2 separate regions of the Homo sapiens genome follow, and region 2 is linked to region 1. Evidence: fine-mapped expression QTL. A gene starts in region 1. The other region holds a variant in brackets. All regions are shown on one strand. Distances are between the middles of the regions. Region 1 holds the start of FLACC1 (flagellum associated containing coiled-coil domains 1). Region 2 overlaps CASP8 (caspase 8).

What was found. PIP is the estimated chance that this variant, and not a neighbour inherited with it, causes the effect. A credible set is the group of variants that fine-mapping cannot tell apart.
Region 2: its variant is the best candidate, but not a certain one, in a credible set for the expression of FLACC1 in testis (GTEx, PIP 0.57).

What each region holds. Positions count from the first base shown.
Region 1 is chr2:201,354,937-201,360,317 of GRCh38, forward strand. It overlaps FLACC1 (flagellum associated containing coiled-coil domains 1), which reads right to left and starts at 2,409. Exons shown (of 15, transcript NM_001127391.3): 1 at 2,046-2,409.
Region 2 is chr2:201,283,953-201,289,333 of GRCh38, forward strand. It overlaps CASP8 (caspase 8), which reads left to right. Exons shown (of 9, transcript NM_001372051.1): 8 at 864-1,365; 9 at 2,507-3,757. The coding sequence ends at 2,642. FLACC1 (flagellum associated containing coiled-coil domains 1) reads right to left here. Exons shown (of 15, transcript NM_001127391.3): 15 at 4,319-4,829. The coding sequence ends at 4,703. Among named protein-coding and RNA genes, the nearest start is that of CASP8, 26 kb to the left of the region's middle. RefSeq lists an enhancer at 4,478-4,622 and a cis regulatory region at 4,550. The variant G/C (reference allele first, on the strand shown) is at 2,764.

The DNA.
Region 1 (5,381 bases):
GACTAGTAAACTTAGTGGTTGTAATCAGCTCATCATGGTGGTTGGGGCTAGCTCAACAAAGAGAAAAAGATGGTATGGTGGCTGATGCCTGTAATTCCAGCACTTTGGGAGGCCAAGGCGAGAGGATCACTTGACGCCAGGAGTTCGAGACCAGCCTAGCCAACAGGGCGAAACCCCGTCTCTACTAAAAACACAAAAATTAGCCAGGCATGGTGGCACATGCCTGTAATCCCAGCTACTCGGGAGGCTAAGGCAGGAGAATCACTTGAACCTGGGAGGTGGAGGTTGCAGTGAGCCGAGATCTCACCACTGCACTCCAGCCTGGATGACAGAACAAGACTCTGTCTCAATAAATAAATGAATAAAACAAAAAACAAAAACAAAGAGAAAAGAGATTCACAGATGAAACTGCCAAAATGTTGTAATCGTCATTACCATATTATAAATAACATTAAACATTTGCATTCAAAAGCCAGAAAGCAGAGGTAAATTGTATGGGTGATACAATCACTCAGTGGAGTTTTACATAGATTTTCAATGATCTTTGATGAATGTGTAGTTGTTTCCTTTTCCTCTTTCCCATGATAAACAATGTCTTGGTATATATTCTTTTGCTCTTAAGAAAAAAAAAAAAGAAGGCCTCACAGGTGTGGTGGCACATGTCTGTAATCCCAACACTTTGAGAGACTGAGGTGGGAGAGTCGCTTGAGGCTAGGAGTTTGAGACCAGCCTGGGAAACATATCGAGACTCTGTATCTACAAAAAATTTTAAAAATAGCCTAGTATGGTGGAGTGTGCCTGTAGTCCCAGCCACTTGGCAGGTGGTGCGGGAGGATCACTTGAGGCCAGGAGTTTGAAGTTGCAGTGAGCTAGGACCACACCACTGCATTTCAGCCTGGGTGACAGCACAAGACCCTGTCTCTAAAAAATAAATAAATAAATAAAATAAAAATAAAGGCCTTTTTCTTTGAACACCCATGGGAGTGATACTCAAAATATTTAACAACCAGTAAGACAAGGCTATTGAATAATCAACCAGGGTTGGAACAGGGTCCTGGGAGATCTCACTCCCACCTCCATGCCAGGCATTAACCCCTTAGTTGCTGAATCATGAGGTGGTCTGGGGGTGCCAGGGGAGGAGTTGGGACAACCAAGGTGGCAAGGAGGACATGCAAGGGGCTTGGACAATGGTCATCTACCAATCAATATGACAGTATTTTATTTATTATTATTATTGTTTTGAGACGGAGTTTTGCTCTTGTTGCCTAGGCTGGAGTGCAATGGTGTGGTCTTGGCTCACTGCAACCTCTACCTCCGAGGTTCAAGCGATTCTCCTGCCTCAGCTTCCCCAGTAGCTGGAATTACAGGCACCCGCCACCATGCCTGGCTAATTTTTGTATTTTTATAACGATGGGGTTTCACCATATTGGCCAGGCTGGTCTCAAACTCCTGACTTCAGGTGATCCACCCATCTCAGCCTCCCAAAGTGCTGGGATTACAGGTGTGAGCTACCGTGCCCTGCCTATATGGCAGTATTTTAATATTTCAGTAGCTAAAATCAGCCCTTGACTTCTCATAGCTTCTTAAGTGGGAACTACTTCTAACAGATTTTTGGGGCATCCTTCCAGAAATGTTGTGAGTGCATATAACCTTAAATGTTTTGCATATAGAACTTAACCTGTAGAGAAGCATAATAGATTTTTTAAATTATTTGCATAAGTGAGAGCATACTTTGCACACAATGTTGCATCTTGTTCTTTTTGTGTAACAGGATATCTAGTTGATATTTCCATGTCATCACAGATAGATCTGCATTTACAGTGGCTTGACATCATATAGCTCTAATTATAGAGGGGTGTGTGAGTGTGTGTAAGGATTTTTTCTCCCCCTTTTTTCCCTTTCCTGCACTTCTACCTGATGATTTTACCTGAGGCTTGCCCTAACAATAGTCACCAGTGAGCCGGCAGAGGCTTCAGAGAAGTTACTGGTTAGTATTAATAATCAGTAGAAAAAATAATATAAAACATCTTTTCCAAAGAGCTTACCTTGGACTGCCCAAAGATCTGTTATTCTCATGTGGCCCAAGTCAAACATCTTAAAGAAACCACCATGTTAGAGAGAAATGGTTCCCCATCAACACAGAATCAGAGTTTACTTTAGATCAAAAGCCACTTTAGTGGCCATTCCAAGTGGTTGAAATGCCGAAGGAGAAAATTCACAGTATATGTACTGCGGGAAGACAGACTTCTAGTGAATCCAATCAAAGGCTTTTACAAAGGCTGGCCTGGCACAAACATGAATTTCCCTTCTAAAGACAAAACAGTTGAAGTTTCTCAGTATTGCAATGAAATTAAACTAGAGGAGAAGGTCACCCCACCATTCAGATTCCTGTGACTTGGGCCTGAGTTGTGAGGTTTGCCCTTGGGAGATGGCAGGCCAAAGTTTGTTTATTTTGTTGCTATGGACACAGAACAGTAGCTCCTCATTGGCTCAGGGCTCTTTTCTTCAAGAGAGAAGGTTGGGAGAAACAGCCAATTAAATTCTCCAAGACACAAATCAGTGACCACCCTCAACAGCAAAGAATTCATACTTTTAACACTGGATTTCCACTTTCGTCATCAGTCATGGGACAAAAAAGTTTAAGATATATCTTCAGAGGAAATAGAATTCAACAGCACTTTTAGGCTTCATTGGTCTATGGCAATAGTTACCAGGCAGGATCTGTGATGGATTTTTAATTCCTCTGTGATCTACTCACAGAAACCTAAAACTCTAGACACTTTTTTCCCTCGAGTTTAAGGCTTTGAAATCTGTGAAAGTAAAAATCCCCCAAGGCAGGAATCTTTTGCAGTCACAAGGTTTTCCGATTTTTTTTTTTAAATAAAGCTGCTTTTTCTTACTATAGAAAAAAGTACTTGCTTATTACAACCCAGTGGCTTTCATTTTAGTTTTACTGCCACTCATTATAAGAAATACATTTTACAAATTTTGTAATAAAAAAATTTCATGAAATAATACTCTTATTATTTGCTATTCTCTTCTATTTCTTTTTCTTCTTTAAATTAAAGCTGATTATAATCCACTAGATTGATTTCATGATCCTGGTGGGTCACAACCCCTAGCTTACAAAATATTGTTATAAATTCATCTATTCACTCAACTTCACATTTGTTGTCTACTGTGTGCCAGGCACTATTGCTAGGTGTGGGGATATACCTCAGTTCTTATACTCAATACAACTTAGAGACCAATGAGAAAACAGACAATAAAAAAGCTCAATAAAAGCATAATTAATTTTTTTTTCCTTTGAGACAGTAGCTCACTCTGTTACCCAGGCTGCGGTGCAGTGGCAGTGGCAGTGCAGGCTGCATGCATAGCTCACTGCAGCCTTGACCTCCTGGACTCAAGCGATCCTTCTGCCTCAGACTCCCAAGTAGATGGGACTACACAGGTGCACAGCACCATGCCCAGCTAATTTTTTTTTTTTTTTTTTTTTTTGAGACGGAGTCTCGCTCTGTCACCCAGGCTGGAGTGCAGTGGCGGGATCTCGGCTCACTGCAAGCTCCGCCTCCCGGGTTCACGCCATTCTCCTGCCTCAGCCTCCCAAGTAGCTGGGACTACAGGCGCCCGCCACTACGCCCGGCTAATTTTTTTGTATTTTTAGTAGAGACGGGGTTTCACCGTTTTAGCCGGGATGGTCTCGATCTCCTGACCTCGTGATCCGCCCGCCTCGGCCTCCCAAAGTGCTGGGATTACAGGCGTGAGCCACTGCGCCCGGCCGCCCAGCTAATTTTTTTGACTTTTAGTATACATGAGGCCTTGCTATGTTGTCCAGGCTGGTCTTGTACTCCTGAATTCAAGTGATCCTCCTGCTTCGGCCTCCCAAAGTGCTGGGATTACAGGTGTAAGTCACCATGCAGCCACAATGACTCATATTGAGACTTGCCAGAAGCAGTGGGAGTTCATAGCAGGAGTTACTCTTCTAGTCCAGTGAGTCAGGCAGCAGTGTTAAACAGAGAAGAGATCTGACTAGATCTACATATCAGAAAGATCATTCTGACTGCAATATAGGGAAGCAATTGGAAGGGCCAGGAAAACCAGGTAAAAGTCTGTGGCAGTGGTCGTCATGGGACCTGACGATGGCCCTGACTGAGGAGCAGCAGTGGGGATGGAGAGAAGACATGATAGAACTTGGTGATTGACTGGATGCTGGGATGAGCGAAAAGGAGAAGGTGATGATTCCTGGCTTTCCAGCTCGAGCAATTGAGTTGACCGTGGTGCCATTTATTGAGATAGGAAAGTGTGGAGGGATAAACAGGTTCTAGGGAGCAGATTATTAGTTCAGTTTTGGATATGTTGAGGTGCAGGGAGACTAATAGACAAGTGGTGACGTCTGTTAGAGTTTCTTACATATTTTAGAAGTTCAGAGGAAGATTCTGGCCTAGAAGCAGATTTAGGAGTCTTCAGAGTGGATACTATTCCAAGCCAAGGGAGCGAGTGAGATCACATATAGAGAGAGTATTGTGTAAGGAGAGAAGAGGGTCTAGAACAGAGCTCTGAGGACACCAGTATTTACGACAAGATTTCTCAGTGTGGGCCATGTGTAGTTAAAATGCATAGACCTGTTGCTTGATTGCAAGTGGCTTACATCAAAGAGGTTTATTAACCTCATGAAATAGAGTCTGGAGGCAGTGCTATCAGAGTTGGTGCAAAGATTCAGCAATGTCCTTGGAGAACTGGGCTCTTTCCATCTCTCTGTTATGCCAGCCTCGGTGTGTTGATGGAGGGAAGCGTCTTGGTTGCACTATGGCTGCTTCAACTCTGAGCACCATGAACAGGCTAGATGAAGAGAGACTTTCAAAGATTAAAAGGAGGGAAATAACTTAGAGAAGAATTGATAGACTCTATTAGTCATCTAGACAATCTGTCTCCATCCAGAGATTGAATATTTACTTTGAGTGTGTTTAATGTGTAAAATTTTATATTTAAATCCTTTCTTATGATTAAAAAAAAAAAGCAGCAGGATTTGGGTCTTGAGTGAAGCATGGCTAAAAACAGAGATACAGAGGAAGTAAGTGCTGAAGGAATACCCCAGCCACTCGACTTGGCAAAGGCTCAGCACTAATTACTACTACTTGGGTATCCCCATTCTCCTTTCATCTTTTTGGACATGAGTAAAGCTTCGCCAGTTCCAAAACAGCTGAGGAGAAGGAAATGAAGGTGTTTAGGGGCTAAGTGTTAAGTGCTCTTCTCTTGGATGAAATTGGGGAAGTGCTGGCATTCTCAGTAACTTCGCCTAAAGCAAAGTGTCTTACTATTTGGAACAGAGGTGGAGGAGGCCACCAATAGTAAAACAAAGTATAAGTTGAAAAATGAATGAG
Region 2 (5,381 bases), 71 kb before region 1:
CTTCTCAGACGGAGCGGCCGGGCAGAGACACTCCTCACCTCCCAGACAGGGTTGCGGCCCAGCAGAGGCGCTCCTCACATCCCAGACAGGGCGGTGGGGCAGAGGTGCTCCCCACATCTCAGACGATGGGCGGCCGGGCAGAGACGCTCCTCACTTCCTAGATGGGATGGCGGCGGGGAAGAGGCGCTTCTCGCTTCCTAGATGGGATGGCGGCCGGGCAGAGACGCTCCTCACTTTCCACACTGGGCAGCCAGGCAGAGGGGCTCCTCATATCCCAGACGATGGGTGGCCAAGCAGAGACGCTCCTCACTTCCCAGACGGCGTGGCGGCCGGGCAGAGGCTGCAATCTCGGCTCTTTGGGAGGCCAAGGCAGGCGGCTGGGAGGTGGTTGTAGCAAGCCGAGATCACGCCACTGCACTCCAGCCTGGGCACCATTGAGCACTGAGTGAACGAGACTCCATCTGCAATCCCGGCACCTCGGGAGGCCGAGGCTGGCGGATCACTCGCGGTTAGGAGCTGGAGACCAGCCCGGCCAACACAGCGAAACCCCATCTCCACCAAAAAAAAAACGAAAACCAGTCAGGCGTGGCGGCGCGCGCCTGCAATCGCAGGCACTCGGCAGGCTGAGGCAGGAGAATCAGGCAGGGAGGTTGCAGTGAGCCGAGATGGCAGCAGTACCGTCCAGCTTTGGCTCGGCATGAGAGGGAGAGGGAGACGGGGAGAGGGAGAGGGAGAGGGAGACGGGGAGAGGGAGAGGGAGAGGGGTCAAATTCTTATCTATCAATGTTATGCCCACTGTGCTCTCCAGCTGTGGTCTGTGAATTACTGTGGTATAACGTGACTGTTCAAATTTCACTTTTCAGGGGCTTTGACCACGACCTTTGAAGAGCTTCATTTTGAGATCAAGCCCCACGATGACTGCACAGTAGAGCAAATCTATGAGATTTTGAAAATCTACCAACTCATGGACCACAGTAACATGGACTGCTTCATCTGCTGTATCCTCTCCCATGGAGACAAGGGCATCATCTATGGCACTGATGGACAGGAGGCCCCCATCTATGAGCTGACATCTCAGTTCACTGGTTTGAAGTGCCCTTCCCTTGCTGGAAAACCCAAAGTGTTTTTTATTCAGGCTTGTCAGGGGGATAACTACCAGAAAGGTATACCTGTTGAGACTGATTCAGAGGAGCAACCCTATTTAGAAATGGATTTATCATCACCTCAAACGAGATATATCCCGGATGAGGCTGACTTTCTGCTGGGGATGGCCACTGTGAATAACTGTGTTTCCTACCGAAACCCTGCAGAGGGAACCTGGTACATCCAGTCACTTTGCCAGAGCCTGAGAGAGCGATGTCCTCGGTAAGTTTTGCCTACTCAGCCCTCCTCACTGTTACACTACCTTCCCCCCCTACTCCATCACACTACTATCTACTCATATTCAGAGCCTATTAGAAAGTGCTATGTGATTTAGATCACATTAACAGGTCAGAGAACTGTCCAAGGGGAGTGGTTTCCGTTCAACTCTAAATGTCTAGCTGTAGATCACATAGCTGCATTTCCCAGGTCAGTTACAAAGTGGGAGAGTGGCAAGTGTTAACATCCTTAGTTTATAGATGGAAAAGCTGAGATGCTTTATTCCTTTATTCAGCACCTCAAAGGACAATCAGGGTATCACAGAGCAGGAAAGGATAGGAAAGTCATATACTCCAGCTCTCTGTCTTTAGGCCAAAACATGACTGAGCCAATTCAACTAGTTTTGGAAATCTTCCAAGAAGGCAGTAACCCAATTCAATGTTTAAACATCCTCCAACTCTGTCAAAAGTTCTATAATAGCAAACCATCCTCAAAACCTCTTGGTGCATTATGGGAGATAAATAGCAGGTTCCTTCTAGCCCTGTATTTCATGTTTTGAGTATATGAAGAGTGAGAATTTCCCGTAACTTAGATCATGAATCTAACTTAGATTTCGTAACTTAGATCATGAATCCTGCAAGGTTTCCGCGGCTAGCTACCAAGGTAGAAGAAGAGGTTGCCTAACAAAAATGCTAAGAGATCCTGGTGAGAAGAAGGTGGGAGTAGCTGCAGGAGACGTTATACTTTCACTTGCCTTAAGTTTAATTGCATCAAAGATGAATCCGCAGATGCGATGTCAATTCGAGGCAGAGAGTATTGGGGGGCATTGAAGCAATGGGGAGCCAAGTAACGTGGAGAAGAGTGAGAGACACACAGGTCAGGAGAGAAAGAAACCAACTCTAATACTGACACCGAGGTTTCTGATGGTCAAAAGAGTTCCTGAATAAACCAAAAGTAAGTTATTAAGCTCTGAGACAACCCATTTACCAGGAAAGCTGGGGTAGGTCTTGGTTTCGCACCTTATTGTTTCAAATGACTGATATTTTGAGAGAAAGAACTACAGAACTATCTCTGAGCACAGCAGAGGAGACAGTTCATCAGTTGCTTTCCCCCACAGACAGTCACAATATTATGTGATGTATTTCAGAGGCGATGATATTCTCACCATCCTGACTGAAGTGAACTATGAAGTAAGCAACAAGGATGACAAGAAAAACATGGGGAAACAGATGCCTCAGCCTACTTTCACACTAAGAAAAAAACTTGTCTTCCCTTCTGATTGATGGTGCTATTTTGTTTGTTTTGTTTTGTTTTGTTTTTTTGAGACAGAATCTCGCTCTGTCGCCCAGGCTGGAGTGCAGTGGCGTGATCTCGGCTCACCGCAAGCTCCGCCTCCCGGGTTCA[G/C]GCCATTCTCCTGCCTCAGCCTCCCGAGTAGCTGGGACTACAGGGGCCCGCCACCACACCTGGCTAATTTTTTAAAAATATTTTTAGTAGAGACAGGGTTTCACTGTGTTAGCCAGGGTGGTCTTGATCTCCTGACCTCGTGATCCACCCACCTCGGCCTCCCAAAGTGCTGGGATTACAGGCGTGAGCCACCGCGCCTGGCCGATGGTACTATTTAGATATAACACTATGTTTATTTACTAATTTTCTAGATTTTCTACTTTATTAATTGTTTTGCACTTTTTTATAAGAGCTAAAGTTAAATAGGATATTAACAACAATAACACTGTCTCCTTTCTCTTATGCTTAAGGCTTTGGGAATGTTTTTAGCTGGTGGCAATAAATACCAGACACGTACAAAATCCAGCTATGAATATAGAGGGCTTATGATTCAGATTGTTATCTATCAACTATAAGCCCACTGTTAATATTCTATTAACTTTAATTCTCTTTCAAAGCTAAATTCCACACTACCACATTAAAAAAATTAGAAAGTAGCCACGTATGGTGGCTCATGTCTATAATCCCAGCACTTTGGGAGGTTGAGGTGGGAGGATTGCTTGAACCCAAGAGGTCAAGGCTGCAGTGAGCCATGTTCACACCGCTGCACTCAAGCTTGGGTGACAGAACAAGACCCCGTCTCAAAAAAAATTTTTTTTTTAATAAAACAAAATTTGTTTGAAATCTTTTAAAAATTCAAATGATTTTTACAAGTTTTAAATAAGCTCTCCCCAAACTTGCTTTATGCCTTCTTATTGCTTTTATGATATATATATGCTTGGCTAACTATATTTGCTTTTTGCTAACAATGCTCTGGGGTCTTTTTATGCATTTGCATTTGCTCTTTCATCTCTGCTTGGATTATTTTAAATCATTAGGAATTAAGTTATCTTTAAAATTTAAGTATCTTTTTTCAAAAACATTTTTTAATAGAATAAAATATAATTTGATCTTATTGCTCCTTGGAGATTTTTTGTGTTTGGTTTTGGTTTCTGCCAATGACATCTCACAGGTGGAAAACATCTGGACTACAGACATGTTCTACTTGAGTCTCCCATGATCGGCACACACAGTTGTATTTTTAAAATTTGTTGTCAATGTTTAAAAATTAGGAGATATCACATAAAAACCAGAATAACTTCTTTTAAAAAATCATACTATCTGACAATATTGACCTCATGCTTTTGCATGGCAAAGGTCTGAGAAGCACCTTCTTCAGATGGGACAGTGCTCTGTGGGTCACTCTTCCCCATCCGCTGTGCCCCAGCCCTGCCCAAGCCCCTCTACTGAGGCTGCTGTTGGTTGCCACTTATCACTGTGCTTGGGCAATTGTTTTCCTTATGTCTAGCCCACTTCACTTATTTATGTTGCCTGCACTGTGGGTGTCTGAATTCTGGTGATGGTCCAGAGGAGGTGGTAAGAATCATCAGAAACCCTTCCTAAGTCATAGGTTAGGGAACATGATTGAGAGGTAGGGAAGTAGGGGGCATGGGTGTGAGAGAAAAATATTTTAGAGTAAAATCAACACATCATCTTTTTTTGCTACCTAAATGCCCCAGGGGACAAAGGTACACCTCCCAAATATAGTAAAAGTTCAATATGAAGAAGGCCTTCAAATCAGTTTCTTTCTAACGAAATACGTCAAGGTAGAAGAAAAATAGTACAAAACTCAGAGAAAGCTCAGCTCCCAGTATGGAGAGCATCATTTTTCAGTGAAGAGTCCGTGATAAGCTGTGAAATTCAGATGCGAATTCAAACATTTTCAGACATTCAGAGAGTCAGAGCAACCCAAGAACTAAACTCATTATATGCATTTTCTCAAGAAAACCCTCCCAGGAGTTTCCTGGGCCTACAGAAATGGTGTGCCAACCATCTTCAACAATGCAGAGCAACTTTTTGTTTATGATTCTTGTCCTTTCTTGCTACCATCTTGCACAGTGTCAGAATCATCCTTAGAAACAGTAATAGAGGCCAATCTCCCAGAACATCCTTCACAAATTTCTTCATTCTTAGAAATTATCTTTTGCCTGTAAAAAGAAAGGAAAGATGTATCAATGTCAACTCAAAAGCTAGAAAGGGTATAGGATATTTGGAGTGCAGGGAGAGAAATGTGCCTTCGTTCCTTCACCACAGCAGTCTCTCACTCATTACTTGCAGTGGTTTTGAATTTAGTGAGGTATGGTGTTCAGGTGACTAAAGTCCTATACGAGGAATTTTCTACTAAATCAATGCAATAAATAACTTTCTTCTATTAAAGTATTGACCAAAATTTATTTTAATGATTTAAGATGCAGCTTCAGGTAACAGTACACCTTCTGATCCAAAGGTGATTTCCATAGGAACCAGAAGCAGCTGCATGTAATGGCAAGACCATCAGACTCCCAGGGGAGATGGATTTAAAAACCACCCTCAGTCATAGAACTGAGCAAACTCAGAAACTGGAAGACAAATGTCCTGTGTTGTTTTGCATAGAAACAAGGACACAGGTGAATGGGAGAAGTATAGACACATCTCCACTCCACCTCAAGTGAACTATCTGGCTTTGTGTCACTGGCCTAGAGTGACATACCTCCCTCCCG